Linked DNA regions of Homo sapiens: all the other regions are linked to region 4. The links come from fine-mapping of genetic effects on plasma protein levels. A gene starts in region 4. Each other region holds a variant in brackets. All regions are shown on one strand. Distances are between the middles of the regions.

The links. A credible set is the group of variants that fine-mapping cannot tell apart. PIP is the chance, under the fine-mapping model, that this variant and not a neighbour inherited with it causes the effect. The UK Biobank Pharma Proteomics Project read protein levels with antibody pairs (Olink). The fine-mapping took linkage between variants from a reference panel, not from the people measured, so its PIPs are less certain.
Region 1: its variant is the best candidate, but not a certain one, in a credible set for the plasma level of the LRPAP1 protein (UK Biobank, PIP 0.88).
Region 2: its variant is the best candidate, but not a certain one, in a credible set for the plasma level of the LRPAP1 protein (UK Biobank, PIP 0.55).
Region 3: its variant is the best candidate, but not a certain one, in a credible set for the plasma level of the LRPAP1 protein (UK Biobank, PIP 0.63). The variant lies in the coding sequence of LRPAP1. If it changes the protein, the assay may bind it differently, which can mimic a change of level.

Annotation. Positions count from the first base shown.
Region 1 is chr4:3,254,335-3,261,589 of GRCh38, forward strand. It overlaps MSANTD1 (Myb/SANT DNA binding domain containing 1), which reads left to right. Exons shown (of 3, transcript NM_001042690.2): 3 at 1,391-2,279. The coding sequence ends at 1,631. Among named protein-coding and RNA genes, the nearest start is that of MSANTD1, 8.8 kb to the left of the region's middle. The variant G/A (reference allele first, on the strand shown) is at 3,535.
Region 2 is chr4:3,167,542-3,174,796 of GRCh38, forward strand. It overlaps HTT (huntingtin), which reads left to right. Exons shown (of 67, transcript NM_001388492.1): 30 at 4,779-4,856; 31 at 5,367-5,590; 32 at 7,180-7,255. Among named protein-coding and RNA genes, the nearest start is that of MSANTD1, 78 kb to the right of the region's middle. The variant G/A (reference allele first, on the strand shown) is at 4,269.
Region 3 is chr4:3,512,502-3,519,582 of GRCh38, forward strand. LRPAP1 (LDL receptor related protein associated protein 1) reads right to left here. Exons shown (of 8, transcript NM_002337.4): 4 at 6,370-6,490; 5 at 5,533-5,691; 6 at 3,615-3,697; 7 at 2,251-2,427; 8 at 1-535. The coding sequence ends at 473. Among named protein-coding and RNA genes, the nearest start is that of LRPAP1, 16 kb to the right of the region's middle. RefSeq lists enhancers at 2,228-3,427, 3,693-4,312. The variant G/A (reference allele first, on the strand shown) is at 2,332.
Region 4 is chr4:3,528,871-3,536,125 of GRCh38, forward strand. LRPAP1 (LDL receptor related protein associated protein 1) reads right to left here and starts at 3,552. Exons shown (of 8, transcript NM_002337.4): 1 at 3,339-3,552. The coding sequence starts at 3,542. RefSeq lists enhancers at 1-174, 3,332-3,541 and silencers at 3,042-3,291, 3,732-3,791.

The DNA.
Region 1 (7,255 bases), 270 kb before region 4:
CAGGATTTCTCATTGAAGACCTGAGACAAAAACGCTTTTGCTGGCAGCTAGAAGGAACCAGCAGGAGGCCTGAGATTTGTGGCTGTTGTTCCCGTGGACTGAGCCCAGTTCTCAGACTCAGCTGCCTGGGGCCTTGCACAGGACTGGGGCGTGGGGGCTGCCCTCCCTGATCAGGCCCAAAGCGCGGATCTCACGCCCCTGAGGTTGGCTGTACCCTCTCAGCTCAGAGCAGAGTGTGGGCCAGGGATGAGCAGGCACTGGAGCAGGGCCCTGGGGTCTGTGGGTTTTGGCAGCTCCCTGCCCTTCAGGGAGGTCTGCTGAGACCACGGGTGGCCCCTACCCCAGCAGCAGAGCTCTCAGGAGGCGCCCACAGGGCTGGACTGCCTTTACTCACCACCTCTACCAGAGCTCTGAGGTCCTGGGGAGAGAGCCCAGGCCTCTTGTGGGCCCCACACCCTCTAGGTGCCTGTCCTTCTGCCTCTCTACCAAGGTGTGCCGGCCCCATTTCTAGGCCGCCGGGAGATAAGGGGGCTCACATCTCAGGCCCTTCCTTCTGGGACCTCAGTTTCCCCATCTGCCTAAGGCCGGGTGGGGCTGGTGGTCTTGGCTTCCCTACAGGGGTCCTGAGTACTCTGCACTACCCAGCACCCCCCACCCCTGCCTTCATCTCTCCCTGGGGGTGGTCTCTCCACCCCTGGCCCCCAACTGGGGCTGAGCCCCCACCTGCCCAGTTTGGTGGGTGAAGGGTGCTCCCTGGCAGGATATGCCCCTCTGCAGCCCAGAACATCCCACCCTTTCCAGACCGAAGGGGTGTGGATTGTCCTGGGACCCTGGTCATTGGGGTCATCCGCTAGTCGCAAAGGACGGCAATGCCTGTGGCCTCTCTTTCTTTCTTTTTCTTTTTTTTTTTTTTTGAGACGGAGTCTCGCTCTTGTGCAGAGAGCAGTGGCGCGATCTTGGCTCACTGCAACCTCCGCCTCGTGGGTTCAAGCGATTCTCCTGCCTCAGCCTCCCGAGTAGCTGGGATTACAGGCACCCGCCACAACGCCTGGCTAATTTTTGTATTTTTAGTAGAGATGGGGTTTCACCATGTTGGCCAGGCTGGTCTTGAACTCCTGACCTCAGGTGATCCACCTGCCTCTGCCTCCCAAAGTGCTGGGATTACAGGCATAAGCCTCCACACCCGGCCACCCCTGTTACTTTCTGTCAAAGGCGGTGGGTTCTGGCCCCTCCTTTGCACATGGAATATGAGACCCTGAGTAAGTGACCTGACTCCCTGGGGCCTCAGTTTCCCCATTTGCCCAGTAGGATTGTCGGGAGGGTCCGGTGAGGCCCCTGGTGTGCCCAGGCTCTGTGGCCAGCACGTCCACAGCCGGCACTGTCCTTCCAGGTCGGAGGAGCGGCCGGTGAAGAAGCGCAAGGTGCAGAGCTGCCACCTGCAGAAGAAGCAGCTGCGGCTGCTGGAGGCCATGGTGGAGGAGCAGCGCCGGCTGAGCCGCGCCGTGGAGGAGACCTGCCGCGAGGTGCGCCGCGTGCTGGACCAGCAGCACATCCTGCAGGTGCAGAGCCTGCAGCTGCAGGAGCGCATGATGAGTCTGCTGGAGAGGATCATCACCAAGTCCAGCGTCTAGGCCAGCAGGCGGCGGCGGCGGCGGGGCCGGGCGGCTGGTGGTACTGCTCAGGCCACCCAGGGCAGGCCACTCAGGCCAGGCGGGCAAGGGGGCCGCCCCGCGAGCGGAGACCGCCTTCCACCTGGCCTCTGGCAGGATGTCCCTTCTGAGGGGTATTTTGAGGAACCCCCAGGCCCTGGGGACCGTGAGGCTCCAGTCTCCAGCATGAATGCCCTTCCTCGGACACAGGCCAGGGCCTCTGGGGTTCACTCCGAGTAAGAACGTCCTAGAGCCACTCTCCAGTGTCGTTACTATCAATGATACTTGACGTGGCTTTGATATTAAACGTATACTTTTTCATTCTTGCCTGGAACGCACAGTTTGCTGTTGCTGGCTTGGTGAGGATGCCCTGATTGATGGATCCCGAAAATGAAAGCAGATGGAAACGGGTTGGGGCAGGCTGGAGCTGGGGGAGCTCTCTCCTGAAGGGAACCCTGTGTCCTCCCTCACCAGGACCTCTGCGTCTCTCCTTAAATGGCCTCTGACGCCTGATGAAAACCCCAGCGACCTTCCAGGAGGCTTTTATTCAGCTCTGTTTGGAGCATCAGGTGTTTCCACTGCCTCCTTAGCAATGACACTAATAAAAGTCGTAACACCTGTTCACATGCACAGCCCTGTTGAGTGTTCTGGGTGCTGGAGATATCATGGTGGATGACACAAAGGCCCTGGCCTCTTGGAGCTTATGCTCCCATGCGGGGAAGACACATGGGTCAGTAGAGAAATGGTTGCAGGTTGTGATAAGTGCTGGAAGGGAGGGGTTGGCCTGAGGACACGGAGGCAGACATACGTGGAGCTGGGAACAGTGGCCACACAGGGAACGGCCAGTGCGAAGGCCCAGAGGCAGAGGACACTGGAGCAAGCCCAGGAGCAGCTAGGAGGCTGGTGGCCAGCAGCCAGGCCACGGAAGCCCGTGCAGCCCGTGGGGAGGAGTGTTCATGCTTTTCAAGCTTAGTGGGAGTCTTTTGGCCAGTGCAGCTCTGGGTCTGACATCGGTGGGGGACAGAGGGGTGGTGGAGCGGCCACAGCTGCAAGCTCACCTCACTGCCGGCCCTTCCACCAGTTTCAAACTCTTTCTAGAAGCTCCAGCTTTCCCAAAGCTGAATTCTCTATGAGCCTCCTTGGCCGGGACTCGGGCGTCTGGTTGCCCTGGCTGCAAAGGAGGCTGGGGCCAGGTGTGTTTGAGTCACCTCCTGGAATTAGGCAAGTTGCTGCCCAAATAGAAGGTTGTTGGCAGGTGGGTCAGCAGGTGAACAGCATGGTTTGACTCAGGGTTCAGAAAAATCTCCCTCTGGCTGCCAAGCGAGCAGGCCGTGGAGACAGGTGCAGAGGCAGGTGTGGCAGCAGGCATCCTGCCAGGCAGTGCTGCAGTCATCCTGCGACAAGCAGCAGCAGCTCATCCTACCCTCTAGGGGGTCTTGAGGTCAGCCAGGCAAGAGAGCAGCTTGGACTCCACTGGGTGTGGGACCAGCCTGTGGACCATGGTGGTGTGGAGGGTGCCCTCGGCCTGCCTGTGTGAAGGAGAGGCCGGCGTGTTCTGTGGAGCCCAAAGGGGAGCTGGGCAAGCAGGATTCACTTCACTCTGAGGGTCCTGGAGCTCCCACCCTCCTCAGCCATCTCCCCAGAGCCTGTGTGCCGAGGACTCGGCCCATGTTGCTGTGGGATGAGAGGCAGAGTGTCGTGAGGGTGTAAGGAGCGGCGGCAGTGGTGGGAGGAGGGAGCAGCAGCCAGCGCTACGGTGCCAGTTTCCAGCTGCCAGATGACGCCGCTGACCCTGTGGTTGAGAAGAGATGCACAGAGCCAGCTCTTGCAAGCCAGTGTGGCTGCCATAGCACCTGCCGAGAAGCAGAAGGAAGGGTGGCCCCAG[G/A]AGGACAGAGGATGCGGGCACATCTGATGCGGGCCTGAGTTTTGGGAGCTTTTGCTCTAGCCAGTTTCCAGCTCCGGGACCCACCCGCCTCGTAGGCAAGACACCACCCAAGAAATCATTTGCTTAACAAACACACTGGGCTCCAACTGGACACCTGTGCCACCCTAGATGCTGGGAACCCAGCCATGACACAGGCACCTGCCCCCAGCTGCTGACCACTGAGGCTGGCTAGCAGCTCCCATGGGGCCAGTGTGGGGTTCCCCAGCCTCCTAACAGGGAGCCAGTCACAAGCCCTCGAGAGGGAAGGGTGCCCGCGGCCCTGGCAGGAAGGTTAGGCTGGACGCTCCCACAAGACATAACAGATGGAGGTTCTAAATGATGTAGCAACTTCTTCACCCTGAAACTGCTGTAGAGTCAGCCATGACGCACCGGTACTTCAGTAACTGCCAGGCATCCGGGACAGCACACCGCGAGTCGCTGCTGTGCTTGGGTTAGAAGTGGTTTGGTCTGTTTTCTTCTCGCCCTCTCTAATCAGAGTCAGTGATTCATGCCCTTCCATCACCTTAGAGAAGGGGCAGGCGCTGCCCGACCTTCTCCAGGCTGGAGCAGCATCGCCTCATGTCAGCAGAACTCAGCTGTAGAATATCGTGGGGTTGGTGCCTTTCATCAGCAGCATGTCCTTAACAACTTTCTGATTTCTTCCTTAGTTGTTGGTCCATTAAGGAGAAAAAAAATGATCTCAGCCATTGCTAAAATATTTGATAAGATTCAGCAAAGCAGCATGTTAACATTGAAAACTAGAATCAGGAGCCAGGCAGATGTGCTTGCTTTTCACCTGTAGTATTTCATGTTGTTTTGACGTTTTTAGCTAATGCATTAAGATAAATAAACAAAAGCCGGGCACGGTGGTTCACGCCTGTAATCCCAGCACTTTGGGAGGCTGAGGCGGGAGGATCCTCTGAGGTCAGGAGTTCAAGACCAGCCTGACCAACATGGAGAAACCTCGTCATTACTAAAAATACAAAATTAGCTGGGCGTGGTGGTGCATGCCTGTAATCCCAGCTACTTGGGAGGCTGAGGCAGGAGAATCGCTTGAACCCGGGAGGCGGAGGTTGCAGTGAGCTGAGATTGCACCACTGCACTCCAGCCTGGGTGACAGTGAAACTCGGTCTCAAAAAAAAAAAAAAATTAAAAAAAGATAAATAAAATAAGCAGGATAAGAAATGAAGAAAGTAGAGTTACCTTTGTTTTCAGATTTCATTTTTGTATACCCAGAAAGCCAAATGTACAAAAGACTGGGAGCTCTTTAAACCAGCTTAAACTTGTTGAAAATGAGGATGAAGAAATATCCCATTCAGAGTTGGAATGAATTTAACCCAGAAGGAACAGGACCTCTACTGAAGAGAACTATGCAGTCTTACTGAAAAATCTAAATAATACCTGAGCGCTGGAGAAACTTCGCACACTCCTGAAAGCTCCAAAGTCAATGTCATCATTTTATTAATGTCATTCCAAACATAGTCTCAATAATATCACTTCTTGGTTTTGACATGGACGCGATGATGTTTAAATTCATATGAAAAAAGAACGGGGCCAAAAGTCCAAGGCCAGTCAGCGTGAGAAGACCGCTCGGCCTCCCTCGGAGTCGGGGAGTTGGAACCGCAGACTGAGATCATGTGGCTGCTGGAGGCCAGGACGAACGTCGGGAAATGGAGACTCCTGCGTTGCTGGTGGGATGTGGTGCAGCCGCTTCCAGGAGCAATTTGGTGTCCCGTCCTAAAGCTGAAGAAACGCATTTCCTCTGGTCAGTGCCACTCCTAGACAGGCCACCCTGCGGCAGCCGTCCTCAAACTGGTCTGAGGACCCCTCAACGCTCTTAAAAATCATTAAAAGTGGGCCAGGTGCGGTGGCTCACACCTGTAATCCCAGCACTTTGGGAGGCCAAGACAGGCGGATCACGAGGTCAGGACATTGAGATCATCCTGGCTAACACGGTGAAACCCCGTCTCTACTAAAAATACAAAAAATTAGCCGGGCGTGGTGGCGGGCGCCTGTAGTCCCAGCTACTTGGGAGGCTGAGCCAGGAGAATGGCGTGAACCCAGGAGGTGGAGCTTGCAGTGAGCTGAGATCACTCCACTGCACTCCAGCCTGGGCAGCAGAGCGAGACTCTGTCTCAAAAAAAAATAATAAATAAATAAATAAAAATAAAATAAAATAAAATTCATTAAAAGTGCCAAAGAACTTTTGCTTATGTGAGTTCTAATGACCAATATTAATACACATTAGAATATCTTATTAGAAATTAAACCTGAGACCTTTAGAAAACATGTATTCATTTCAAAATAGCAATAAACCCATGACATATTAACATAAATAACAATTGTATGAAAAATATATTTTCCAAAACAAAAAGTTTTCGGGAGAAGTGTGGCATAGTTTTACATGGTCGTAAATCTCTGGCTTAAGAGAAGCCCACTGGCCTCTCAGCAGGCTCTGGGTCCGTCCACTTTGGGGGTGTTTTGGTTGTGAAGTATAGGAGTGAATGGAGAAGCTCATTCTTACCCAGATGTGTATTTGAAAAGAAAAGGAACATTTTAATAACCTTTGCAAATAATCGGTATATTCTTCCGTGATCCTATTCCAACACTGGACAGGTGGTGGTTTGTTTTTTTTTTTTGGAGACGGAGTCCCGCTCTGTCACTCAGGCTGGAGTGCAGTGGCGCGATTTCAGCTCACTGCAAGCTCCGCCTCCTGGGTTCACTGCAAGCTCTGCCTCCCGGGTTCACGCCATTCTCCTGCCTCAGCCTCCTGAGTAGCTGGGACTACAGGCGCCCGCCACCACACCTGGCTAATTTTTTGTATTTTTAGTAGAGATGGGGTTTCACTGTGTTAGCCAGGATGGTCTCAATCTCCTGACATCGTGATCCACCCGCCTCGGCCTCCCAAAGTGCTGGAATTACAGGTGTTAGCCCGGCCGACAGGTGGTGGTTTTTTACTGGCCGGTTGTGTGTGGAATCTGATACCCTATCAATGAACTTCTACTTCATTTCAGGAGAATCCATTGGTCCGTCTTGTGCTTCAAGGACTCTGTCCATCATGCCTTTGTGACCTCACACGCTGGGCCTTTGGTTCACTAAGTTATGCGGATATTCCAAATGCTGACACAGTTCCTTAATCAGTATTTTAAAATCACTTTTGGCGATATCACCAATCTTAGAAAAGTCTTTCAGTTGGAAAGGTGGTGAACTCATGGTGGTGTCTTTCAGAATTCTGATTTTTGCATGAAAGCTTGAATTTTATCATTGGTAACAAATGCTGTCAGCTATTTTCTTTGAATGAGACAGGCTCACTTTGTTCGTTTTCCAAAAAAAAAAAGTCTGCCAGGACACCCAAGGCTGAACAACCAGAGTTTTTGCACATCCTTTTTTTGAGTAAAAAGTGTGCTCCATACGTGTGTTCCAGATCCAGACGGCAGCTCAGCCCATTGCACACCTGCATTTCCTCAGCGTGGACGTGGGGCAGGCGCGCCTTCCAGTTGCTCGGGCAGGACGTTGAAAAGATGTGGACCCAGGGGTCAAGACCTCACACACTCGACCATTTTCACTCCATCACGGACATTTGGAAGTGACCGGCGTTTCACACTGCAGCTGTGCGGTGCGAAAACCCCTCAGGGCTGCGCCGGGGCTCGGGGCCTGCCTGCGTTCCTGCTCAGGTCTTGCC
Region 2 (7,255 bases), 360 kb before region 4:
AATAGTAAGATTTTCTTTTTTGTATGTGGGTTTTTTTTTAACCTTATTATTATGACTGTCATATATAGAAATGGCTGTTTTTCAGTTACAGTCAGTGAATGTATCAAATGCTGCCTTATCCAAATAATAAAAGTAAATTATTAATAAGTCACAATTTAATGAAGATTGATGTTAGTTGATCTTTATATTCTTGAAATCAGCCATATGGTTGTGTGTGTATGTATATATTTTTAAAGGTACATAAAGATAATAAGCTCATCTCTGAAAATTTTTACATTTGGCATAAGAATAACTGGATAATTAAGCATCTTATTCTCTGGCCTGTGTCTTTACAGTTAAAGGTAGATTTACTCACCTCTCCTTTTTTGTTTTTCTAAGTTCATCTTTTTTGCTGTTTCAAGACAGAGGCCCATTTTAGCTTTCTCGCATATCCTTTTGTTTGTACTTTGGAAGCCTCACCTGCTTAATTGTTGAGTTTTTATCCGTGGTCTTTTAGAGGGGGATATGTAGGGTAGAAGCTTTCACAGGTTCTTGTTTGCACTTGGCCCCTGACTGTTTTGAGGAATCTCCCTCACTGACTCACAGCATGGCAAGGTTTCAGATCTCTTTCTGCCACACAGCAGTTCTGAGGCAGCTGGAAAGATATCCAGATGCTTAGATTGTCAGGCCAGGCTTGAGATATACAAACTATTGAGCCTTATCTGTGACCTTGCTTAGGTGAAGGCATCAGAGCCCCTGCACCAACATGCATAGGCCTCTGCATGTGTGCGGGGCTGGGTGTTGAGGTCTGAGCACAAGTGTAGCTGGAGAGGTGAGCTTGATGTGGCGACGGGTATGAGCAGGTTTTCTTCAGACTTCTGTGAGTTTACCTAGTTCCAGGATTTAAAGGCACAGAGACTTTAGAATTAAAATAGAATCATTTTCTTTTTCTAAATAGCAACACTAGGAATAAAAAATAATAATTCCACATTCTTGACAGGTAATGTTTTTTCTTGTCTTCTAATCCTTATTTATTCCATACTCATTTTTATACATAATTGAAATGTATTATGCATTGGATTTTTCTTTTGCATTATATTATAGACGATTTTTCATGTAACTCCTTACTGTTCCATTTTATATGTTTTGTCTGGTTTAAGACTTTATCTGCAAACCGGGAAACTGTCTCTACAAAAAGAAAAACAAAAATAGTTGGCCGCAGTGGCATGCGTCTGTGGTCCCAGCTACTCGGGGCTGAGGTGGGAGGATTGCTTGAGCCTTGGGAGGTTGAGGCTGCAAAGAGCCATGATCATGCCATTGCACTCCAGCATGGGTGACAGACTTTATACTGTCTGTTTTGGGTGATTTGATAATGATATGCCCTGATGTAGTTTTTTTATATCTTGTGTTTCTTGTGCCTGGGTTTATTGAGGTTGGGTCTGTGGCTTCATAGTATTTTTAAAGTTTGGAAAATTTTAGGCCATTCTTTCTTTCTTTCTTTCTTTTTTTTTTTTTTGAGACAGTGTCTCGCTCTGTCGCCTGCGTTGGAGTGCAGTGACACTATCTTGGCTCACTGCAAGCTCTGCCTCCTGGGTTCACGCCATTCTCCTGCCTCAGCCTCCTGAGTAGCTGGGACTACAGGCGCCTGCCACCACGCCTGGCTAATTTTTTGTATTTTTAGTAGAGACGAGGTTTCACTGTGTTAGCCAGGATGGTCTCAATCTCCTGACCTCGTGATCTGCCCGCCTGGGCCTCCCAAAGTGCTGGGATTACAGGCGTGAGCCACTGCACCCAGCTAGGCCATTATTTCTTCAAAGATTTTTTTTCTGCCCTGCCTCCCTCCTTTTTTCCCTCTCTTAAAGGGGCTGTGATTTCCTGAATGATTGCTTAGTGTTGTCCCATAGCTTACTGATGCTCTTTTCAGTGTTTGATTGTTTTATGTGTTTTCTGTTTTGTATAGTTTCTATTATTGTGTTTTCAAGTTCTCTGATCTTTTCTTCTACAGTGTCTACTCTGTTGTTAATCTGTTAATCTGTTGTTAATCCTGTCCAGCGTATTTTTTTTTTTGTTTTTGAAACAGTCTCACTCTGTTGCCCAGGCTGGAGTTTAGTGGTGCGATATCAGCTCACTGCAACCTCCACCTCCCAGGCTCAAGCAATTCTTCTGCCTCAGCCTCCCGAGTAGCTGGGACTATAGGCACGTGCCACCACACCTGGCTAATTTGTGTATTTTTATTAGAGATGGGGTTTCACCATGTTGGCCAAACTGGCCTTGAACTCCTGACCTCAGGTGATTCATCCGCCTCGGTCTCCCAAAGTGTTGGGATTATAGGCATGAGCCACCGTGTCTGGCCCCTGTTCAGTGTATATCACTAATTTTGTTTTTATCTCTAGAAGTTTGATTTAGGTCTTTTAAAAATGTCTCCCTGTGTTTCTGTTTAGCTTTGTGAACACAATTGTAATAACTGTTTTAATATCCTTCTCTGCTAGTTCTAAGATCTTCTAATAACTTCCCAGTTCTTGGTGTTTCTCATTGGTTGATTGATACTCCTCGTTTTGGGTTGTATTTTCCTGCCTCTTTGTATGGCTGCCAATTTTTTATTGGATGCCCAACCTTGTGAATTTTACTTTGTTGGATGCTATATATTTTTGTGTTCCCATAGATCTTCTTGAGCTTTGTTCTGAGGTTAGTTGAGTTACATATAGATGGTTTACTCTTTTGGGTCTTGCTTTATAATTTGTCAGATGGGTTGGAGCAGTGCTTAGTTTAGGACTAATTTTTTTTTTGGACTAATTATTCCTCTTTAGGAATAATTAGGTACCATGCTTAGGAGGCAAGACCATCCTGAGTACTCTACCTAATGAACCAGAAAGTTTGGGTTTTCCAGTCCGCCTGCTGAGAACAGTGACTTTCTAGCCCTGTGTGAGCGCTGAGCTCTGCTCCTTCTAATCCTTTCCAATGCTTCTTTCCCTGGCCTCAGGGAGTTTTCTCACACACATATCTCTGCTGAGTACTCGAGAGGGACCTTCCCCAGATCTCCAGAGCTCTCTCTGTCTTGTTTTCTCTTCTCTGGTGCTCTGTCTTATGAACTGTGGCTGTCTTGGTCTCCTTAGATTCTCAGCACCTCTTCAATTCAGAGGGTTGCCTGTCCCTCCTCCTTGTGCCACAGCCTAGGAACTCTCTCAAAGCAGCGAGTTGGGGCAGCCATAGGGCTGACTTAGTCTCTCGTCTCCCAGGGATCACTGTCCTTCATTGCTCATGTCCAGTGTCTTGAGGACTCTGGGTTTTGTCTGTTTTGTTTTTTGGTTTGCTTTGGTTGTCTCAGGCAGGAGGGTAAACCCAGTCCCTCACCCTCATTGTGCTCAGTAGTGGAAGTCTCACTCTATTACATTAGATATTAGTATTTGTAGCAGAGCCCTGGTTCCCTGGTACTTGGGGAGCTCTTGAAAGGCCAGAAACAGCATGCTTTCTCACCTTTTCCAGGGCTTCAGTTTCTGGTGCACATCAAGCATTCCATACACATTTGTTAAAGTCCTTTGTTAGACAAGTAGTGATTCACAGGTTCTATTTGTAATTTTTTCAGTTAACATGTATTGGGTATCTGCTGGGAGCTAGTAAAAACAAAAAGTGGTGTGTGACAAATTCAATTCTGACAAGAACAACCTTAAACACTTAGAATATACTTTGAGCATATCAGAATTTTAAAAATGTGTGGCCCTTGAGTATTTGAAACCAACAAGAATCTATTGCTTATTAGTAGAGGATATTTTGTTAAACAAGTGGAGAGAGAGGCATTTTCAGTCTAATTGGTGTTGGCTTTTAGCAGCTGATGGAAACCAGTTCGTGATTAGCCAGGCAGTGGTGAAACAGGCTGTGCATTCTGAATGCCTAGGTATCTAGGCATTCAGAATGGTGGCGCTCTTTGAGTTAGCATCTTCTTCTTTCTTGATTCTTTTTTTTTTTTTTTTGAGATGGACTTTCGCTCTTGTTGCCCAGGTAACAACTCCAGTGCAATGGCGCCATCTCGGCTCACTGTAACCTCTGCCTCCCTGGTTCAAGCGATTCTCCTGCCTCAGCCTCTCAAGTAGCTGGGATTACAGGTGTGCGCCACCACGCCTGGCTAATTTTGTATTTTTGGTAGAGATGGGGTTTCACTATATTGGTCAGGCTGGTCTTGAACTCCTGACCTCAAGTGATGCACCTGCCTCGATCTCCCAAAATGCTGGGATTACAGGCGTGAGCCACCACTCCCAGCCCCTTCTTGATTCTTGAAAAGGACATTGGGTGCT[G/A]TACATCTCGTTATAGATGTTGATAAAAATGCTTGTGAGAAGAGTAACATTAAGGTAGTTATTTGGTCATTTTTGCAGATTATTTTAAGACAATTCTAGGACTGATTTGTGGTAAATCACACATTGCTGTATCATAGTTGTGTTCACTGAACATATTCAGGGGCTCTACAGATGCAGGGCTCTTAGCTGCTTTGCACACTTCTGAATTCCTGCCCTGCGAACAGGACTGGATACCTAATAGACAACAGGTACTTGATAACAGTTTATTGAATTAATGAGTGAATGAACAGATACATAAATGCATGAAAGAATGGTTGTAATGTATATAACTTGGATTTCAAGACTTTTTACTGACTGTTCAAAATAAGAAATTGAAAACTTTCCTCTGATTTTCCTCTACTATTTACACAATTTAAATGGAAGTTATCTTGTACCTTCAATTTCTGTCTAGGATTCGTACAATAACGGGTCATCTCTGAGTCGCTTAATGTCTCACTTGTCTTTCTACAGTGTGTTGAAGAGATCCTAGGATACCTGAAATCCTGCTTTAGTCGAGAACCAATGATGGCAACTGTTTGTGTTCAACAAGTAAGAGCTTCATTCTTTTCCTCTTCTGTTAAGACGTTCGGGTATGACAGCAAAACGCTGCTACTCCTTAAGAGGCAGGCGCTGTTGGCATAATCAGCTGGGAGGATTGTGGGGTCCAGCGCAGCACTTTTTGGCTCAGTCCATGATTGAGCCAAGAGGCCATCCTTCCCTTCACTCCCCAGGAGGACGAGGTCTGTCACTGTGGAGGGCAGAGGACACCAGAAGCTCCTCTGCAACCTCGCTAGTTAACTTCCAGTCCCTCGGAGTTTCTGTTTAGAATGCTCAATCTCATTTAGAATTGCAAGGAAACCCAAAACGCCTATTTAAGGTACAAACAGCACTTCATACAATATCTCATGAGGTATTAATAGTGATTCACAGGAAGAATTTCACGCTGTGAGTCTTTGCTAACATATCCAGTTATTTACAGATGGATTTGATATTTGTGTGGGAGATTCTTAAAAGTGTTGTTCACGCCACATTGTTGATGCCTCATTTTTTTCACTGTAGTTGTTGAAGACTCTCTTTGGCACAAACTTGGCCTCCCAGTTTGATGGCTTATCTTCCAACCCCAGCAAGTCACAAGGCCGAGCACAGCGCCTTGGCTCCTCCAGTGTGAGGCCAGGCTTGTACCACTACTGCTTCATGGCCCCGTACACCCACTTCACCCAGGCCCTCGCTGACGCCAGCCTGAGGAACATGGTGCAGGCGGAGCAGGAGAACGACACCTCGGGGTAACAGTTGTGGCAAGAATGCTGTCGTTGGTGGAAGCACGAAAGAGCAAGCAGGAAATACTTTGTAAAAGAATAAAAACGAAAAATGTTAGCGAACATCTTCTAATAGTCTGCTGTATTCAGAGAACTCTAGGAGATATATATGGTTGATGCAAAGATGATTTAAGGCATAGCCCGGCCTTCCAAGAAGTGTGTGGCCAGTGAGTGAGATGGGCTTGGGACTTACACATCTCAGAGGTGGGGGTAGAGGAGGAGGAACACTGAGTGGGCTGAGAAGCAGCCAGCTCTCATTGCCAAAGTGTGTCAGCAAACCAGAATGCAGTTCATAATGTCCCCACCCATTCAAAGCACAGGACCTGTAGAGTGGTGTGGCATGTGTTGGTGGCACTTTTCAGGCCTGTAACAAGGATGAAAGAACAGCTTCATAGCAGCACAGTAGTGCTGGTGTTCAGAGGTGTGTGAAGGCCATAGAAGCATCTTGGATATATTACCTTGTGTTTTGTCAGCTTTATGACTAGAAGTCTCTTTTCACTTAAATTTGTTTTTTTTTTTTTTGAGACGGAGTCTTGCTCTGTCGCCCAGGCTGGAGTGCAGTGGTGCAATCTCAGCTCACTGCAAGCTCTGCATCCTGGGTTCATGCCATTCTCCTGCCTCAGCCTCCCGAGTAGCTGGGACTACAGGCGCCTGCCATCACGCCTGGCTAACTTTTTTTTGTATTTTTAGTAGAGACGGGGTTTCACCATGTTAGCCAGGATGGTCTCGATCTCCTGACCTCGTGATCTGCCCGTCCCGGCCTCCCAAAGTGCTGGGATTACAGGCGTGAGCCACCGCGCCCGGCCTCTTTTCACTTAAATTTATGTTTGTGTTTTTAATGCCTAGTATACAGGACTTCTTAAATTGCCTTAAGTATGAACAGGTATTTGAGTTGCTAATCTGTATAGTAGCAATAATAGAATCCCTTGTTTTTCCTTTTATAAATTTAGCGATTAAATAGCTACAATTAAAACACTAGAGTCAGGAGTCAAGGAAAATACCCATGTTCCAGGCTGTATGTTAGTGATGTACTTACTATATATTGGAGTTTCAGGAGTAAGTCTGTTTCAATGCTTTCTGTAACCATTTGGGGTATTAATAAGCATGTGAGTGTGTGCATGTTTGGGTTAATTTCATATATGTTTCTTAGAAGGGATATCATTGATGTAAATATTTTAAAGGCTTGTCCTCCAAAAAAATCATGTAATTTCTTCTAAATTACTGATCTTTTAAATGACCTTCACCTTTCTCTCAAATCTCACTTAAGACTGGGCTGAGTAGTCAGTTTCCTGTAGCAGAAAAAAGCTCAGACTTGAGTAGCCTTCTGCGAGTGAGGAGACTTGATGGCTGTCAGGCAGCTGTAAACTCTAAATAGAGTGTCATTATCTGAAGAGGGCGATGCTGCCACACTGAGTGGCCTTTCAAGTTGTTTCTCAATCTGACACGTTCTGATCGTGTGAATGTGAAATTGGTTTGAGCAGGAGTATATCTGAGTGCAGAGGAGATTATTTAAAGATATTCTCATTCTCTGCTTCCCTTTTATTCCCATTTGGCAGATGGTTTGATGTCCTCCAGAAAGTGTCTACCCAGTTGAAGACAAACCTCACGAGTGTCACAAAGAACCGTGCAGAT
Region 3 (7,081 bases), 16 kb before region 4:
TCCCTTCAAGAGCACTGGCTCCGGCCCCAGCCACCAGGACACTTAGTGACCAGCCAACAAGCGGGTGGTTTAAATACTGCACTCTATTTTTTAAGGACTCTGTGCATGGTATTTCCGGTGGCAGATGTGTAAGATTTTTTATGTAAATCGTGTTGTTTTAGCAGAGGACTATCAGACCTGACAGCAGCTGGACATCGAGGTCCTCACTGGGGTGGTGACTGCCACGCTGATGCTGAGTGGAAGCCAAGCCCCTTCAGTCAGAGCTGGGCCGATCTCAGACCCAAATGCTACCACCACCAAGCCCTGTGTCGCGACGGCAGCGGCTGCAGTCACCAGAAACAATCCTTCCTGCCTCGACACCCGTGCCAGCCCCAGCCACCCTGACGGCGGGCTGTCCACGGAAATGCCACGGCCAAGAGCCCAGGTCCTTCACGCTGGCCTCTTCCCTGCCGGGCTGGGCTCCCCAATGCCTTCAGAGTTCGTTGTGCCGAGCTCTGGAGATCCTGCCGGACAGGTCCTGCAGATGCTTCTTCACCTGTGGACAGAAACGTCTCATCAGCTGGGGACAGCGCGCCTCGAGGCCAGCTCTGTGAGCTCAGCCTCATGTCAGGAGACGCGCGATCCAAAAGGAAAAGGCGCAAGCCCTGCACATCTGACTTTCCAATTCCACACCCATCCAGAAATGCTCAAATCACAAAAGCAGCTCAGTACTAACTAGAAAATCCCACCAAAGAACGCTAAGAGCCACCAGCCAGGAGCAGTTCATGCTGAAGTGGAAAGCTCAGGGTCTCTGTGATAGGCCCATGGTGTTATTTATTTACTTACTGAAAGGGTCTCGCTCTGTCACCCAGGCTGGAGTGCAGTGGCATGATCTCAGCTCACTGCAACCTCTGCCTCCCAGGCTCAAGTGATCCTCCCACCTCAGCCTCCCATGTACTTAGGACTACAGGTGCCCACCGCCACGCCCGGCTAATTTTTTCTACTTTTGGTAGAGATGGGGTTCTACCATGTTGCCCAGGCTGGTCTCGAACTCCTGAGCTCAGATGATCCACCCACCTCAGCCTCCCAAAGTGCTGGGATTACAGGTGTAAGCCACTGTGCCCAGCCCCACAGTGTTATTTTTAAAAGCAATGACCAGAGAGACTGGGACAGAGCTCTGGGAAAGGCGCCTTCCTCCTCAGGGCCTGGGAGGGAAGGAGAGGGACCTCCAGCTCCTCACATCACAACAGCCCAGAGCATCCCCACAGATACCACCCCAGTGGCAGCAGGTGCTGCGTCAGCCCAGCCTGGGCTGGGGTCACTGTAGCTCTCCCCAGATTCTCACAAAACCCTGCTCGTGGGCGCCACCTCCCTCTCCACATAGAAGCCCGTGGCTCAGGGTGAATAACTCACCGAAGGTCCCTTCTCTCAGCGGCCCTGACCTCTGCCCCAACGGTGCGGGTGCCTCAGGCAGTGCCACACGGCTTTCTTAACCAACACCGAGCTTTGCCGTGGTCAGGTGAAGCTAGGTGCACGCTAGCATTCCATCCCCGCGTCTCGCGGGAGCGCCCTGCAAACCCCACATGGTGGTGCTCACCCTGGACCTGAGCTCCTGCCCACGGGCAAGGGCCACAGGCTGCTCTCCTGCACATTCTGCCAGGCAGACCCGCACCACCCTCTCCTATCAGAACTTCTACCTTCATTTATTTTTTAGGCCTTTGCTATTTTTGAATCGGTAACACATGCCTGCAGTTCAAAGTTTAAAAGGCACAGATGGGGCTCCTGAGCCCCAGCTCCCTCCAGAAAGAACTTGGCATGAGCTTCCAGGGTTTTCTGTGCCTCTGTGGCAAGGCTGTGCGCTGGCTTCAGCTTCTCCTGGGCTCTGCCCCTCCTCCCCTCACATCCCAGGGGCTGTGGGGAAGGAGGCTCGCCTGTCTCAAAGGCTGGAGAGTGCCCTGACTCATGGGCTGGCTGTGGGTATCCAGGTCACGCCCCATCCTGGTCACAGGAGGACGAGGCAGTGGCCCGCCGGGGCCTGCGCTCTCACCTGAGGGTCGGGGGACTGCACTACAAGCCCGGGGGGCTCCCCTAGCATGGCTGCTGTGGCCTTCAGTGCCCCACACACTTGTGGCCCTGGGGTTCAACTCGGACAGGGAAGACAGCAGCGTGGGGCCCACACCCCATCTACAGGAAGCCCTGAGCTGCATGTGGGCGGCCTCATCTTTCCTGCAGGGGAACTGTGGCCTCCCCGGTCCTGGAACCCGTGCGCACCGTGTAGCCCAGCTCCTTGGTCCGCCCCTCCAGCAGGGCGTGCTTCTCGCGGCTGCGGCTCACACGCTCGCCGTCGCCCAC[G/A]CTCTCTGCGTGCCTCAGCTTCTCGTGCGCAATCTCCAGCTGCTTCTGGTAGTGGTTGTGCTTCTCGATTTTGGCTTCGAAGTGCTTGAGCTCCTCCTGGAACAAGGTTTCCATAGGTGAGTGTTCCCTTCCCGTGCTCGCCACGCCATCTTGTGGTCCCGGGTGAACTGCAAGGACGCCAAAGGACGGCGCCATACCCGGGGCAGGACAGGCCTTGCGGTGACATGGGCAATGAGGGGGCGGCAGCTGGGAGGCCATCACACTAGCAACGGGTCCCAGCCCGCGCCTCCTTGGCAGCCCTAAGCCGACCCCTTCCCTGTCTCTGCAAATGGCACCCCCGCCCCCCGAATCTAGGGGGCCTCCAGCTCGTTCCCAGCCAGACCCCATGTCCAGGGGCTGTGCTTCTGTGGTGGCTGCCTCTGCACCCTGCCCCCAGCCTGCCTGGGCTCCACTGCTGCTGGACTGCAGCTCTGTCCCTGCTCCTGTAGGTGCCCTGCCCTGCCTTGACCCCACGCTCCAGACCCAGGGCCCTCCATGTGGCCCCACCTGCCAAGCCCCATGCACGTGCCTGCGGCCAGCTAAGGTGCCCCAGCCCCAGAGGGAAGCTCCTGACCCCTTTCTGGGGGAGGTGCTAAGGGCCCTTCCTGGGGCCAGGAAAGTCCCAAGTCCTATGAGGGCAGGACCACACCCACCTCCCTCCCAACAGACACCAGCTATAGGGACCCTGGGTGAACTCATGGCCGGATACCATACTCAAGGCTGCCCACCCAGGACCCCCGATGGACTCCCCACTCCTCACAGCCCTGCTGGGTGCTCACCGAGCTGATGAATTCTCCACCCTCAGAATGATCTGGCACTCCACACGCCCCAGGAGCCCCTGCCACCTGAGGTGGTCTCCTTCCCTCCCTGGGCCTCCATCTCAGGAAGTGGTGACACCCCTAAACGATCCCGGTAGTGTCCTTGGTCCCCTCCCCCCAGGCTGTGGCTGGGTCCCGACCAACTGTTGACCATCCACAGGACCCGCACCAAGGCCACGCTCAGACGTGAACACGGACAAAAGAACCAAAGCCCCTCCCTCCAGAGCCTGGCCCCGCCCCTGAAACACGAGTTCCCACGCAGATGAGAAGGAAAACGCAAGCAGGTTCACCGAGTGGTTAAGGAAGAAACTGCGAGAATCTTGAGAGAGAGAGCTTGGAGGAGAGGGCTGCATTTCCTTACCCGGAAACTGCAAGAGAATCTTCACCACAGGAGAGAGCTAGAAGGAGAGGGCCGTGTTTCCTTACCCGGAACGCCTCCAGCTCCTTGTCCGTGAGGTTGGCGGACTGCGCCAGGTCCCACAGGTCAATCACCCTGGGCTCCTCGAACTCTGCAGGGGAGGAGCAAGAGTGGCCTCAGCAGCACCCGGGGTGCACACCACAGCCAGCCCCGCGGCAACCACGCTGAGTGTGCGTGGAGCCTATGAGGGTTTGCAGGCGCGACCTGCATGTGTGTGAAACACGGGTGCGTGCACTCAAAGTCTTATGGGGCACAGAGGGCATCTGCTCAGTAGCTCACATGACCTCGCTGAAATGTGGCTTCTCTGTCCCCTTGGCCAAACAACTGCTTCTCCTTTGTGTCCAGAAACACCTGCCTCCATCAGAGCCTGGGAAGCGCCACAGCCCGCCCTGGCTGCCTCTGAAGCAGGAGGCAGAGGATGGACGTGGCCTGTGTGCAGAGGCTGCCAGGACCTCGGGTGGGGGCACCTGCAAGTTCAGCCAGGTCCAGACGCAGGCACAGGCCGTTTCCCTTCGGTCCTGCTCAGGGTCTCCAGCAGGATGTTGTGCTCGTGAAAGTCAAACATTCGGGCTCCTGGGAGGAGCCAAACAAACCAAGACGGCTCCTGGACCCTGGTGCTCACGAAGGGACGCAGTGAGAGACTCCGGGGCTGTCACCACTCTCCAACCAGGAGTGAGTAGTCCAGAGCCGCCTGCCCATGGAGCCCCGCAACAGTGGCCCCTGCTCCCTCCTCTGCTGACCCCTTCCTGCTCAGGACCCCGAGGACCCTGGGCTGGTGGGGCTTGCTGGAAGGCCCAGGCAGACCCGCAAGAGAACTGCAGGAGCCGCTGGACACAACTGCCTTGGGGACAGCCCGAGGTGGGAAGAGAAGTGTGTGGGGCTGAGTCGCCCTTTCCTGCATGGACTATAGCCAGGCTCATCCGGGTCTCTCCAGCACAGGAACTCAGCAAACTGCATCGCAGGCCTACAAGGTGGTCCAGCCCCCAGCACTACGGCCAAAAGCCTACGGCTGACAGTCACCAGCACCAGGTCAGGCTAAGGGAGCCTGGGTTTGGGGGTGGGTGGTGAGGGGTCTTGCCCAAGGGCACTCAGGTGACAGCAGCACAGCCACCCAAGGGGACCTGGGCCCGCGTGGACACATTTGACTGCTGTGCTGGAGGCTGCCTCTGGGCAGACCATCCTGGAGACGAGGCGGTGGCTCTGCCTGGCACCGGGGACAGAGACCAGCCCTGCTGTCTTATCACCATGAGGGCACAGATGCCATCTCCTGGCGGCTGCTGTCTCCTCGAGCCTAGAGCAGTGCCTGGCGTGCAGCTGGTGCTCAGTGTGCACGTGGAGGATGAGGTACAGAATCGGAAGCTGCGTGAGTGAGGCCAGCAGGCTTCTGGTACACCCTGCACAAGGCTCTGGCCCGGGTACGGGGCAAGAAGCAGTGGTGCAGAGCCTGGCCACTGAGGGCCTGCAGTGGAGGGAGATGAGCTGCTGAGACGGAGCCACAAGCTCTGTGGCCTCAGCGGGCGTCCTGCCCCTGCCGGGCTGAGGGGGACTGATGGACGGTGTGGGTGGCATGAGATGGAGACGGAGCTATGTTTGACGAGTGGTCTCTGTTCTTGGCCAACAGCAGCACGGGAGGGGCCGTGCTGCTGAGGCTGGGGAGACGCTGGGAAGGGCTGCTCCCAGGCCCGCTGCCGCCACTGCCCTCTGCTAGTCTCCAGGTACAAGGCTGGGGACGGCGAGTGACCTTCACGGAGCAGCTCCTGGGAGCGAGGCCTGTGACCACCCGTGGGTAGACTGAGCGCGCCGAGGGTCTCCGCTGCGTCCACAGGCCCAGGTTCCCGTCGCTACAAGCACCTGCCTGCTTGTCCCCAAAACACAACCAGAGACGGCCCCACCCTCGGGAACCAACAGTCCCGGGCGGGCACTCACCAGCCTCAGTGCTGTAGCCCTGGTGGCTGACCCTGCGCAGGCGGTCCAGGCCCTGGTTGATGCTGCGCAGCTTCTCCTTCAGCTCCGTGTGCCTGCTGTGCAGGACGCTGCCCTTGATGTCGCTCAGGTCCGAGGGGCTAATGACGTTCTCGTGGATTTCTGTAAAACCGAAGGCAGGACGCCATGAGGCTGGGAGTCCTCGCACTGCCTGCCCAGACCACTGTCTAGAACGCCCACTGCTGGGGAGCTCAAACTCGCTCTCATTTCTGGGCTGAAAATGTCCCCCTTCCGCGGTCCTGCAGCGCCGCAGAAACGACCGTTGGCACAGCTTCCTTTCCAGGCGAGACAGGCGAGACGCCGGGACACGCGCACCAAGTGGCGCCTGGCGGTGACAGCTGGGGCACCAGGTCCCCTGGGGGCTGACTCTGGACCCCTGCCCTGCCCCCTCTCTGCTGGGTCACCCTCCATTTTACTCCAGCTTTGTGGGGTGGGAAAGTCACACATTTGGGGAGGGTCACGAGTCCAGAATGAAGGACCCATCAGCGAAGCTCAGGTCTGACAAAGGCAGCAGCTGTGCCCATAGTGGGGGCAGGCGCCGGTGAGACTTGGTTCATCCAATGCAGGCAGGCGACTCCCAGAGCCTGCCTGCACAGCAACCTCCCCACTCACAAGTCCGGTGGAACCCTGGGAGGGCGTCTGGTGCCGCCTCCCTGCCCCTGCTGTGTTCCTGAGGGGAGCTGAGGCTGCCCACTGAGCACAACGAGCCTCAGGTGCAGGAGGGGTGGGGGGCAGGAGGGGGTGGGGCAGAGGGCAGGAGGGGGTGGGGGCGGGGGGCACCTTCGGTCCTGCTCAGGGTCTCCAGCAGGACGTTGTACTCGTGAACTTTCTCTTTGTGATGCAGGAACTCCCGCCAGAGCTTGTCCAGTTCTTCGCCGGAGAATTTCCCAGAGGTCTTCGCCTAAGAGGGAAACAAGGCCTGGAGTGAACCCGCCGCGGGCTCGTGTGGCCAGGGCCGCTCTTCAGCCAACCACTCCTCATGGCCAGGCAGGCCCTTGCCTACGTGAGTGCCAGGCCAGGTTCTTGGCCTCACGAAGGGCAGGAAAACAAAAAACAAACCGGAGAAGAGCTGCCGGCAGGCAACCACCCTTCTCTTGGACGTGTCCAGGCTCAACAGGGGACAGCTACCGAGCTGGCTGGGGTGGGGAGCAGAAGATCCCAAGGAGGGGGACAGGGCAGCAGCCCGGTGACCCCGGGCTTGCCTGGCTCTCCCGGCTGCAGGTGGTGAGGACAGCAAGGCCACCTTCCTAGGGGGACCTCTGCCAGCCCCTCATTGTCATCCCACCTGCCTCCTGGTTGTGAGATGACGTGGCTCACACACGTCCAGGGAGGCCACACAGGGCCCTCTCTCCCTCTCTGCCCCCTTCTACCGACTCCATCTCTCCTGGCCAAGGACATTGAGCTGAGACTGGGCTAGTACAAGAAGTCTAACTGTTGACCCCAAATCAATGTGATCCAGAGAAACTGTTCTGGAGCAGGAGCCGCTGGAAAT
Region 4 (7,255 bases):
ATCCTCAGAGGCCCTTCTCAAGCCAGGGGGGACGCTTGAGAGCTGGGGTGGGGCTCTGAGGGCTCCTCTCTGCAGACCTCAGTTTCCACTCGTCAGACCTCTGAGAACAAGATGCTTCACACACTCTCATTGCAGTCACCATTCACGTCAGAACTAAGGACTGTCTGCGTGCGGTGCCTCCTGGGACTACACCTGTAATCCCAACACTTTAGGAGGCAGAGGCGGGAGGATCACTTGAGCCCAGGAGTTCGAGACCAGCCTGGCCAACATGGTGAAACCCCGTCTCTACTAAAAATATAAAAATTAGCCAGGCATGGTGGTGCATGCCTGTAATCCCAGCTACTCAGGAGGCTGAGGCACGAGAATCGCTTGAACCTGGGAGGCGGAGGTTGCAGTGAGCCGAGATCACGCCACTGCACCCCAGCCTCGGCGACAGAGTGAGACTCTGTCTCAAAAAAAACAAAAAAACAAAAAACCAAAAAAACTAAGGACCTATGGCCAAGGACTCCGAGCTCATGGCACCGTGCAGCCCAGGCCAAGAGGTACACGAGTGTGTCCCTGAGCGCCGCAGCTGGACCATGCAGACCCTGGAGCTTACTCCTCAGCATCAACACAACACACAGAGCTCTGAAGAGGCAGAGTCCTCAGAAGTCGTCTGTGAGCACAAGGGCTCTGCATGGCCTCTGACCTCCAAAGCTCCAGGGACAGCCTCTGCTCAGGAGTCTTGCAACACAGTGGAGCCCGCCTGTGAAAGAGGAACTGGGAGAGTCACAGAAAGTCAAGATTCAAGTTGCTGGAGAGGATGAAGCAGCACCCCCCTGGCCGGGTCTCGCCTGATGAAAGCGGGTCTCAGCATCTTCTTGGCGGCAACCTCAACGCAGGTCTCACAGCCCAAGCCCATCAAAGGCAAAGGTTTCCTGAAACGCTCCCTTCACCCTATGCCTACTGACACACTACGCAATCCTATATGCCAGGATGTGGCTTTACATGCAGAAAACAGGGACACGATGTTTTCATGAAGCAAACCAAAGAAAGGACAAGACCGTCCTGGCTGCTGAGCGCAGGTCGCAGGAGGCTGAGAGCAGTGGCTGCAGAGCCGGGCAGGAAGTGCTTCTCTGAAAAAGCAGCCCTCACCTCAATTATCTTCCAGGGGGCGATCCAAGACCCCGTCTCCGTCTGATACCTACCTAGAGCGGCGAGTCAGGTGGGGTAAGAAGCCGACTGGAGTGACTATTTGCACGAACAATTCTCTCCCCCTACGTTTGAACTGACTGTGGCTCCTCCTGCCTCCTGACCACCCTGGGCCCTGGCACGCTCGGCAGAAAGAGCCACAGCACAAAGACCACCCGGGATGCACTACCGCCACTGAGAACCTCAAAAAGACCCGGACGGGTCTGACGCCTGCACACTTGGCTCCAGGATAGAACACCCTCACAGCACCGCCACCCTCCAAGCTTCCGTTATCTGGAAGGAAAATCAGGACGAATGGGCTCTGCAGGCCTGCCTGCCATAGTACCAGGCTCTCTGGAATGGGGGAAGACACACAAAATCCCCCAAAACACCCTCACCCCCGAAGAACTTCACGTTCTGTTCAGCAAAAAAGACTTGCCCACACAACTAGAACTTCAGGACTTAAAGGGACCAGAAAGATCATCTAGTCCAAGGCTCAGTCCAAAGTGGAGGTGAGCAGCTCGCCCTACCATGGTGCCCAGTGAACCTCAGGGAGGTTTAGGAGACATGACCCAACCCAAGACTGAAACTGGTCAGGCGAGCACCCAGCACCGGGGGACAGTGCAGGGGCAGCCCGAGGGTAGCTGGACCAGTGCAGGGGCAGCCTGAGGGCAGGTGTATTGCTGCAGGAGGCCTGGGCTGACAAAGACAGAGGACCAGCTGGAGGTGGCTGGAGGTAAGGTGGAGCGCACCAGGGCGGCCCTGCAGAGCAGGTGGAAGACTTGGGCCAGCACCCAAAAGGGAGCCGCTGGGGTTCCTGGGTCCGAGTGCACTTCCTCAGCGCCACCTCCAATCGGTCAGGGAGTCTATTTCGGGCTCCCCATTCCTCATGGGGAGGGGGGACTCCACCCACTCAACAGATGCCCAGTGCAGTGGGCACGGGGAGGCAGCACTGCATCCCGGCTGCTCCTGGTCACACCTGTTCCCTGCTGCTGGGAGGCCATCAACACATCCAAACCCAGCCGTGTCCCCAGCCCCTCCAGAATCCCTTCCTCCAAGAAGCCGCCCTGCCGCTCCAGCCCAGAGCGTTCTCCCACCTCCCACCTCCGCAGGCTGAACATTACGCCTGGGGCTTGACTGCTGGTCCCAGGAGCAGTTCAGGAAGGGCCTGTGGAGCTGATGCCCAGGCGTCAATCCCCATCCCCACGCAGTCTTATAACCGTCTGTCGTCTGTCTGTCCCCCACCTGTTTCTCCTCTCCCTTTTCGTTCCAAAAGTTCCTTCTTATTCTGCAAATCACTTACTTTCCCTCTCAAAGACTCAGGAATGCTTAAAACTGGACTATTGAGACAGAGATCTAATCTGACTCCTGCATTTGAGATGAGATAATGAGGCCCAGATGGTCGGCATAGTTCGAAAACACCCATTTCAGGTGTTTTCAGGAACACCTAACAAATGAAGCAACCGTATCTTAATGAAGAGAGCAGCTGGCCCAGGGTCACGCACCAATTAGGAAGCTGTTGTCCCGGGGGGCCCCACCGGCCGAGCCACCTTGGGGGTGCCCTTTCCCCTCGGGGCCTCCGTACCCTCATCTCTCAAATGAAGGAGAGGTCAGGTGAGCGCCCTGTTAAGACTGACTTTCAGCATTCCCAAGGTCGCGTTTTATGTGCTCTAAACCGATCCCATCTCCTCACCTCCTCATTTCTCGCTCAAATGAACAAGCACGGGCTTGCTACTGGGATTCCTTCTGTCCCTGGACACGTCTTTCTACCCAACATTTTGTTTTTCTTGTTTCCCCACATAGGGAGATAAGGTTGAGGGAACAGGCAAAGGCTCGGGAGGCAGGAGACCTGTGATCTAGCCTGGTTCTGTCCCTACGCTCGGGTCAGCAGGCCGCCCAGGCTGGGGAGGGCGACACTGACCCTCGGGGTGCCGGCCGCCACCTGCTTCACACGGCGTCGTCGCCGGCACGGGTACCTTTCCTGCTGCAGAAGGGGTCGGGGCGCCCCACCTGACACTTGGGGGAGGCTGTGCCAAGGACAGGGCGCGTAGGGCACAGGTGCCCCGGCTGCGCCCCCCTCCGCCTCCGACCCCTGGGCCCCGCTCCAACGACCCCAACCACGGCCCCCGCCCCCAGGCCCCGCTCCACCGACCGCGGGCCGCGCTCACTCGCTGGGCCTTCTCCCACAGCTGGTTCAACTTCTCCATGCGGAACTCCTCTCCGGACTCGCGTTTCGGGGACGGCTTGGGCTGGTTCTTCTCCCGCGAGTACTTGCCGCCGTGGCTCGCAGCGGGCCAGGGCCCGAGGAAGAGCAGCAGCAGTAGCAGCGCCGGGAGCCCGCGCAGAAACGACCTGACCCTCCGCGGCGCCATCTTCCTCTGCGACTGGCGCTGCGCGGAGAAAACCTAGCCTGCCGATGCCCCGCCCACTACCCCGCCCCCACCCACCGCGCGGTCTCCTGGGAATTGTAGTTCCTCCGTGAGCGGCCGGCAGCGGCGAGGCCGCCGGCGGACTCCAGCGCCTAGGAAGCCCTGCGCAGGCGCAAGCGTTTCCCAGGCAACCACGCCGCGGCCCGAGGCTGCAGACTCTGGCAGGGGATACAACTGGAGAATGAGGGTGGCCGGGTGGGAGCAGGGATCAGGCCTCACCCAGAGCCCGGAGCCTGGAGCCCGCACGACTCGAGGCCTCTTTCCCTCTCTGCCCCACAGAAAGAGCGGAAAGCCCAAGAACCGGGCCGCGTTTGGCTGAGCCTGATAATGCTCCGGCTTCACGCGCACTGACGCCGACTCTTGCATGTCCAGTGCCGTTGCGGGGTTGGCACTGCGGCCCGGGCCTGGCGCTGAGGAGCCTGGCCCAGCCCGCTTCTGCCCTCCGCGGAGCGCCTGGCCGTGGGTAAGCCCAGGCCAGGTTGTCCCGGGGACGCAGGGCCGCGCAGACGTCCCCCTACGTCCCGGGGCCCCTGCCCCAACCCGCGTCCCAAGCGCCTGCTCTCGCGCCTGCTGCAAGGCAGGACTTCGCGCGCTTTTCCCCAACCCATGACACTCTAGGAAATTCACAGAGCCAAAGTTAGCATAGACCGCTCGTTGGGGGCTTGGCCAGTGAGTTGGGAAGTGCCCTGGAGGTAGCGCGGGAAACAAGGGGAAGGAGGGAGACAGACAGCAGCTGGGCCCCTTTGGGCTCAGAGAAGGGACAAGGGGAGCTCATCTGGCAAGAATGATCTGAAAAGGCCTCCAAGGGTGGGCGGGATTTTGCGGGGGGAGGGAGGAATTTCCAACTGGAGGGACAATGACAAAGGGGGTGAATAGAGCCTGGGCATCTTGAGAGGAATTAATGTTAATTCATTTCCTTTTTTTGCGTGGGGGGATAGGGTCTCTGTCATCGAGGCTGGAGTGCAGTGGCATGATCATGGCTCACTGCAGCCTCGACCTCCTGGGCTAAAGCGATCCTCCTGCCTCAGCCTCCCAAGTAGCTGGAACTATAGGTGCGTGTCACCACGCCCAGCTAATTTTTGAAATTTTTTGGTAGAAATTAGGTCTCCCTATGTTGTCCAGGCTGTTCTCCAACTCCTGGGCTCAAGCAACCCTCCCGTCTTGGTCCCCCAAAGTGCTGGGATTACAGGCGTGGGCCACTGGGCCTACCCTAATTTACATTTAAATTGTATCTTGTGTTGTTCCAGAGAAGATTTCAGGTCCCTGGAATCAAGGTGATCTGCTTCTGTCCTGTGCTGCTTTTCTAGTATTTTCAGAGCCATCGTTTCATTTCTTTTTTTCCAGCTGTTGAGTTGTTTCAGGCAAGAGGGTAAATTCAGTCTGTTACTGCATCTTAGCTGGAAGCACAAGTTCCCAATATGGGATGTATGGGGGAGAGGAGGTAAAGGAATCCCCCAGGAGGGTGGTGGAGGGAGAATGACCTCATGCGAAGTGACTCCAGAGACAGATCAAATGCTGTCATTGCCATCATTGCATGTTTTTAAGCCTCAGGACAGAATGGCCAGGTGAGCCTGGCCTAGATTCTCACCTGTGCCTGCCTTCCCCTTGTGTTCCCTCGTTCCTGCTCTTCTCTCCATCTCCTGGTGCCTAGAATCAGAGGTCACCTGTTTTACCCCACATACATGTTTTGCCCTGACCCCACTCCTGAGAGCTACAGGTAGGTCTTGGTGGGCTTAGAAGGGGATAGTCCAAATTGGCCTATCCCCCCCAAGCATGTCCCTGTTGGTCATCTGGAATGTGGTCCTAACTGCAAATGTTCCAGCTCTGTGAATCCTGCCCCCAGTGTCTCTAGAAAGGCCCGTTATAAACCCACAGGAATTGGAAGCTGGACTGGGAGCAGAGTCTTCTGGGATCCTGCATCTGACAGTGGTGTGGGGTTCTAAGAGCCCTTTTCCTATACAGCCCGGTTTCCCAGATAACTAAGCAATATTTTATTCGTGGCTGCATACACAGGCAATGAAACTAAAGAAAGTCAGGGGATGGCTAAAGGATGGAGGATACCTGGGCTGGGGGAGGAGGGAGAATGCGACGGGTGAACACAGACAGGCTTCCAAAGTGGTGTCCAGGTTGTAGTTCTTCACTAGGTGGTGGGCACACAGGCATGCATTTTTCCTTATCTTTAAATTGTACATATTTCATACACTTCTCCGTATGTATTATACATTTCAAACTAGTACATCTTCTAAAAAATCACAGTGGTTAATGCAATCAGTACAGGTGCCAGGCACATACCAGAGACTCCAGGTGACGGCATGCTCTCCTCTTGGGCTCCTCCTCTAGGGCTGAAAGTTTATTTCTCACCCCTGCCGCCAGCACCCGCCATGCCAGCCCGTGTCTCTAAGTGCTGAGGGGAAGGTGTATGAACAGAGACAGATACGGCCGTGGAGGAACCCGGAGGGAGGGCCCTCCACTTGGTGAGGACGGATTGTGAGGCTGGTCAGTGCTGAAGCTGAGTATCTTGCTTACGAGAGAAAAGGGGAACTGTGCTTATAGGACCATCTCTCAGAGCAAAACAAATTGAGTCTCTTGGGAAGCCTGGCATTGAGGATTGTCCAGCTTTCAGAAGTGAGAGTGTTCAGCCTGACTTCAGGGGCACAAGGTTCTTGCTGCCTGGGCCTGTTCTGTAGTGTGGGGCTGTCCCTGACTGGCCGGCTTTCAGAAGCATGCAGCATTGTCATTGACTTATTGGGGTTTCATGCCACCACGGCCAAAAAGCAGTTTGTTTTTGTCCTTGAGTTTGGACTATAGATTGTTATTCTCTCCAGGCAAAGGCAGGAAGCACACGGGAACAGGTAGCGCCAGGTGGCTGCAGGCAGGTGGTCTGGCTGGAGCTCAGTGCAGAAGCACAAGACGGTGGTGAAGAGTGAGGCAGACCCAGGGGACTGAAACGCCACTGGAAGGAAGATTCCACCCAGAGCAATGGGGGCCACAGAGTGATCCTGAGGGGAGAGTTACACAGAGATGCGTTTGAGGAAAAGCAGAGACCAGTGGGAATGCTGGTGCTCTCCGCCAGAGGAGAGGCGAAGGTGATCGGGATGAGATAGAGACACGGAGGCAGTGAAGATGGAGAGGCCATGTGAAGGTGGAAGGGACAGAATTTGGTGACAAGCGTCCAGACTGACGCCCAGGTTTCCACTTGGGGAGACCAGAAGGTGGCAGGGCGAATTCCAATGCCAGGTCTCCAGGGAGAGCACGCTCAGGAGGAAGATGAGAGTCCGGGTCCCTGTGGGATGGACGTGGAGCCCTCCAGGGGCACTGAACTCTATAGATCTGCCAGTCAGGGGCAGAGGGGTCCAGGGCAGAGGAGACAGAGATCTGGGCACCACCCACGAAGGCACAGTGGGCAGGGGATGGAGCCCTCTGGAGGGAGCCAGCGCAAGGGTGCGAGAAGGAGCTTGCAAAGGAAGCAGAGCGGCAGCCAGGACAAGGGAAGGTGCCCGCGAGGAATTTGCCTGTAGACCCCAGGGTTGAGTAGGCTTTAAGGAGGAGCACATGGGCAGCGTTGGGCCGCTCACAGACTGAACGCACAGAGGCTGGTGTAGATGCCTGTGGCCTCTGCCCTTGCAACAACCTCTGTCTTGGGTCAGGTTTCCTGG